Regions from separate parts of the Homo sapiens genome. Here region 2 is linked to region 1. Evidence: fine-mapped expression QTL. Tissue or cell type: whole blood. Region 1 holds a variant in brackets; the other region holds the start of a gene. All regions are shown on one strand. Distances are between the middles of the regions. Region 1 overlaps RHOA (ras homolog family member A). Region 2 holds the start of AMT (aminomethyltransferase).

Evidence for each region. PIP is the estimated chance that this variant, and not a neighbour inherited with it, causes the effect.
Region 2: it holds the start of AMT, and the variant in region 1 is the best candidate, but not a certain one, in a credible set for the expression of AMT in whole blood (TOPMed, PIP 0.86).

What each region holds. Positions count from the first base shown.
Region 1 is chr3:49,394,558-49,397,460 of GRCh38, reverse strand. The region is part of intron 1 of RHOA (ras homolog family member A); the gene reads left to right. Among named protein-coding and RNA genes, the nearest start is that of RHOA, 16 kb to the left of the region's middle. The variant C/T (reference allele first, on the strand shown) is at 1,514.
Region 2 is chr3:49,421,320-49,424,222 of GRCh38, reverse strand. It overlaps AMT (aminomethyltransferase), which reads left to right and starts at 1,750. Exons shown (of 9, transcript NM_000481.4): 1 at 1,750-1,862; 2 at 1,952-2,119; 3 at 2,651-2,731. The coding sequence starts at 1,773. NICN1 (nicolin 1, tubulin polyglutamylase complex subunit) reads left to right here. Exons shown (of 6, transcript NM_032316.3): 6 at 1-1,890. RefSeq lists enhancers at 1,369-2,122, 2,123-2,875.

The DNA.
Region 1 (2,903 bases):
CACACCATTCATTTGAAATGAACAGTTTGGTGGGTTTTAGTATATTCACAGAGTTTTACGTGTATCACTACAGTCAATTTTAGAACATTATTATCACCTCAAAAAGAAACCCTATGTTCTTCAACTGTCATCTTCAATCTCCCTATCACCACGCCCAGCCTTAGGTAACCACTAATCTACTTTGTGTCTCTATAGATTTGCCTATTCTGGATATTTCGTGTAATGGAATCATATATTGTCTTTTGTGACTGGCTTCTTTCATTTATGCAATGTTTTAAAGGTTCATCCATGTTGTAACATTTATTTTCTGACTTTTTTTTTTTTTTTTTTTGAGACAGGATTTTGCTCTGTCACCCAGGCTGGAGTGCAGTGTCTCGATCACTACTCACTGCCACTTTGCCCTCCTGGGCCCAAGCGATCCTGCCACCTCAGCCTGCAGAGTAGGTGGGACCACAGGTATATGCTACCACGCCTGGGTAATATTTTTATTTTTTGTAGAGACAAGCTCTCACCATGTTGACCAGGCCAGTCTTGAACTCCTGGGCTCAAGTGATCCTCCCACCTCAGCCTCCCAAAGTGCTGGGATTATAGGCATGAGCCACCAAGCCCAGGCTGACTACTTTAAAAAAATTTTTTTTAGTAAAGATGTGGTCTCACTATGTTGCCCGGGCTGGTGTTGAACTCGTGCTTAAGCAGTTCTCCCACCTCAGCCTCCCAGAGTGCTGATAACTGCACCCGGCCTGACTTTTTTTGTGTGTGATGTTTTGCTCTTGTTGCCCAGTCTGGAGAGCAGTGGTACGATTTTGGCTCACTGACACCTCCACCTCCCAGGTTCAAGCGATTCTCCTGCCTCAGCCTCCCGAGTAGCTGGGATTACAGACGTGTGCCATCATGTCCGGCTAATTTTTGTATTTTTAGTAGAGGTAAGGTTTCACTATGTTGGCCAGGCTGGTCTCGAACTGCTGACCTCGTGATCCGCCCACCTTGGCTTCCAAAGTACTGGGATTACAGGTGCGAGCCACCGCGCCCAACTAATTTTTTGTATTTTTAGTAGAGTCAGGGTCTCACCATGTTGGCCAGGCTGGTCTCTAACTCCTGATCTCAAATGATCCATCCTCCTCAGCCTCCCAAAGTGCTGGGATTACAGGCGTGAGCCACCAGGCCTGGCCCCGGGCTGACTTCTTGAAAGAACATTTTCCACCACATATCTCAGTGCCCACGTTTTCTCAATTCACTGCCATCTACTCTTGCCTGTGGCTATATGAAAAGGTTTTCTCCTGTTGCTGGACACCTCCTCATAGACCTGTGTTCTTTTTGCAAGCATGTAGTTTGGACTCTTTTCTTGTAATGTGTTCTTCCTTTTTTCTTGGTGTTCATTATCATCATACCTTTTTGAGCATTTCAGTTATTTCTGGCTTCTTCATGACCACCACTTCCTTTGTGTTGGTGGCACTCTTTGGCTAGATCACTGCCCCTCTCCATTCCATACACTGGAAGACTATGCTGTTTTTAC[C/T]TGTAATAACAGCTTACCTGGGCACTGATATTTTTCAGCTGACTGTGGGGAAATGTTTGTGAGGTTTGGAAAACGCCTCCTTAGATTGTGCCCATTCCACCTCCCCTTCCATTAGGGTTCTTTCTTTTGGGCACCCTCATACCCTTGCCATAGTTTTCTCATCCCTATCCAGTTAACCACTCAATCACTTTTCGTGCCCTGCCAAGGCTCTGTTTCTTCCTCTTCTTTTTTTTTGGAGACAGAGTCTCGCTCTGTTGCCCAGGCTAGAGTGCAGTGGTGTGATCTTGGCTCACTGCAACCTCCGCCTCCTGGGTTCAAGCGATTCTCCTACCTCAGCCTCCCGAGTAGCTGAAATTATAGGCGCCCACCACCACGCCTGGCTAATTTTTGTATTTTTAGTAGAGATGGGGTTTCACCATGTTGGCTAGGCTGGTCTTGAACTCCTGACCTCAGGTGATCTGCACCCCTCTCAGTCTCCCAAAGTGCCGGGATTACAGGTGTGAACAGCCGTGCCCGGCCAGGCTTTGTTTCTCTATTAATTACAGACCTGATTGTGCTGGTCCAGTGGCTTTCCCTTCCTTACAGAATAGAATGCAGATTGCTCTGCATGACATACCATATCCTCTGGTCTAACCATCGCCCCATCTTTCCACCCTTATTTTCAAAAATCTCCTTTCTGAATTCTTTTTTTTTTTTTGAGACGGAGTCTTGCACTGTCGTCCAGGCTGGAGTGCCGTGGTGCGATCTCGGCTCACTGCAAGCTCCGCCTCCCGGGTTCACGTCATTCTCCTGCCTCAGCCTCCCGAGTAGCTGGGACTACAGGTGCCTGCCACCACACCCGGCTGTTTTTTTTTGTATTTTTAGTAGAGACATGATTTCACCGTGTTAGCCAAGATGGTCTCGATCTCCTGACCTCGTGATCTGCCCGCCTCGGCCTCCCAAAGTGCTGGGATTACAAGCGTGAGCCACCGCGCCCGACCGCCAAATTCTTGTGTTACTGGTCATTGAGGTTATTTGCTCAAGCTGTTTCCTCACCTTAGAAAGTATTCCTGAACCATCGTTACCGCTCTTTCCAGGGGACTTGTCCTCCTTCTTCAAGGTCCATCCAGGTCAGATATCATCTTATCTGAAGCTCTCTGGCAGAATCACTTGCCTTTTCTCTGAGTTCATACCAGAGAAGATAAGCTTTTGTTACAGCACTTAATTACATTGTGCTGTTTTCCCTGAGTGTTTTCCAGATAAAGCTGTATCTCTAGTAGCTAGAACAAGGAATGGCCCATAGAAGACAGTGGTTTGTGGCCGGATGCAGTGGCTCACGCCTGAAATCCCAGCATTTTGGGAGGCCGAGGCAGGTAGATCACTTGAGGTGAAGAGTTTGAGACCAGTTTGG
Region 2 (2,903 bases), 27 kb before region 1:
GTGTGCCCATAGGGCCTGGGCACGTGTCTCTAGCAAAACCAGGGCCTGAGCATAAGAACTGGGACCCTTCTAGGCAGGGTGCAGTGGCTCACGCCTGTAATCCCAGCACTTTGGGAGGCCCAGGCAGGCGGATCACCTGAGGTCAGGAGTTCAAGACCAGCCTGACCAACCTGGAGAAACCCCGTCTCTACTAAAAATACAAAAAATTAGCTGGGCGTGGTGGTAGGCACCTGTAATCCCAGCTACTTGGGAGGCTGAGGCAGGAGAATCTCTTGAACCCGGGAAGTGGAGGTTGCGGACCTGAGATCATGCCATTGCACTCCAGCCTGGGCAAGAAGAGCGAAACTCCATCTTAAACAAACAAACAAAAAAAAAAGAACTGGGACCCTTCTGCCATCTGACATAGCCCAAAGCACATCTCTATCCTTTCTCCCAGTTGCCCCTCTCCTTTTTTGTTGTTTTTTTTGAGGTTGAGTTTTGCTCTTGTTGCCCAGGCTGGAGTGCAATAGTGCAATCTTGGCTAACTGCAACCTCCGCCTCCCAGGTTCAAGCAATTCTCCTGCCTCAGTCTCCCGAGTAGCTGGGATTACAGTCATGCATCACCATGCCTGGCTAATTTTGTATTTGTAGTAGAGATGGGGTTTCTCCATGTTGGTCAGGCTGGTCTCAAACACCTGACCTCAGGTGATCTGCCTGCCTTGGCCTTCCAAAGTGCTGGGATTACAGGCATGAGCCACCGCGCCCGCCCTGCCCCTTTCCAAGAGATATGCTCAGCATAATGAGAGATCAACCGTGGTGGGGAGTGGGTCCAAGTAAGGGTTCTCATTGTTGCCTTTTAAGAGGCCTAAGTCCTGCATTAACTCAGTCCAACCATTAAGTGATGCAGGCTGCTCTTCCCTCATGTGAGAAAAACCTGTTTCCCTCTGGTTCTTCCTGGCTTTGCACCTGGTGGCTATTACAAAGCAGTACTGCAGTATGTCTTGGACCTGGAAAGTTGGACATGTGTGTGGCTCAACAGTTTTCTCGGGGGAGTTCAGTGACCTTTTGGTGGCCACCCTCTGTTCTCACCTGTGAGTTCTTGCAGGTGGCGACTTCATCTGCAAGGTCACTTACATAGCCCCACTCAGCTGCTTCGGAAAGCGTGACGAAGCAGTAGTCCTCAGTGTGTGTGTAAGTGAAGAGGACCTTGTGGTAGCAGGGACCATGCTTCATTCGTGGCTGTGTCCCCATCTGAGGGCCTGGTATGCAGTAAGATCAATAAATACTTGTGGAATGCATGACTGCTGGCTGCCTGTGTCTGCCTGGTGGGAGAGCTGTGGAACTAGGGGTCCACATGAGGACAGACTACTGTGGTGCTGCCTACCTGCCAGGCTGGCCCACCTTCCCCACCCCCACTTGACCTTACTCTCTTGAGGTCCTAAAGGTATGATTCAGACCTTTCAGCCCTTTCCAGAACTTTGACCCTCTGGAGACAGGGCGGTTCTGCAGGGGGCGGTCTAGCCCCTAGCTTTGTTCTGGGCAGCCCAATCAGCTCTGGATTGCCCGAGCTGCCCTGAAGAGTCAGCCGAAAGAGCTGGAGGCTTCTTCCCTGTGGTTGCGGGTTCCTGCATTCTCTGCTCTAAATCCCAGCCTGCCCTTGGGGCTGCCCACGCCCCCTTCAGATCCTTTGCTCCGGAGAGAGACCTGTCCGAGCAGAGGCCTGGACTACATCTCCCGGCGTGCCTGGCAGTGTGGTGGCCTCTGTGCGCCGTCTGCACTCGTTGCAGGCGACGATGCAGAGGGCTGTAAGTGTGGTGGCCCGTCTGGGCTTTCGCCTGCAGGCATTCCCCCCGGCCTTGTGTCGTCCACTTAGTTGCGCACAGGTGGGATAGAGGGTGCTGATCTTGGAGGGTGGGGGAGGGAAGCGGCTGGGGGCTAGGGCCCTGGTGGCACTAAGCCCAGCCGCCCACAGGAGGTGCTCCGCAGGACACCGCTCTATGACTTCCACCTGGCCCACGGCGGGAAAATGGTGGCGTTTGCGGGTTGGAGTCTGCCAGTGCAGTACCGGGACAGTCACACTGACTCGCACCTGCACACACGCCAGCACTGCTCGCTCTTTGACGTGTCTCATATGCTGCAGGTGAGCCAGGGGAGCACACTGGCCATCTGATCAGGCCTTCCTCCCTGTTTACAGTGGTCCACTCCTTGGCTTTGTTTGCTGTGAACTGGATTCCAAGGACAGCCTTCTCAGAAGAGCTAGAGGTCATGGGGGTGTCATGGATAGGTCAATGGCCCCAAGGAAATGAGCTCAGAGGGTCTCATCATCTCATCCTTCTAGCTTGCCCCCATTAAATGGTGTGCCTTAATGTCCCGGGTTTTCCAGGGCTGACACCCACTCTCATGTATTGGGCTGGATGTTGGTTTGAAAAGGGGTTATTTCAGGAAGGTGCTAGGTCCTGTCCAGTTCCCTGGCAGTCCCCCCACACAGAGTGACTGGGGGAGGTCAGGAAATCAGAAGGTGGTCCTTTGCCACGTGTAGAACCAAAAGACTGGTTAGTCACTTTGGGTGGGCTGGACTGCACTGTGGATGGCAGGGAGGATGCATCCTTGCTTAGTAGCCTTTTGGATTGTAGCTGTTGCAATGGCCTGAGGCTTTCAATCTCTTCCCCAGACCAAGATACTTGGTAGTGACCGGGTGAAGCTGATGGAGAGTCTAGTGGTTGGAGACATTGCAGAGCTAAGACCAAACCAGGTGGGCCCTTTTATTTCTGCTCTATGAGTTTTCTTAGTCATGAGCCAGCAAATGGGCTGAGTCCCTACCTCAGGCTTAGGGGCACAGAGATGAGTCAAACACAGCTTCTCAGGGCTTGCAGTCTTGGACAGAATCCCTGAGTCATTTCCAGAGACACAGACATTTGTAGGGA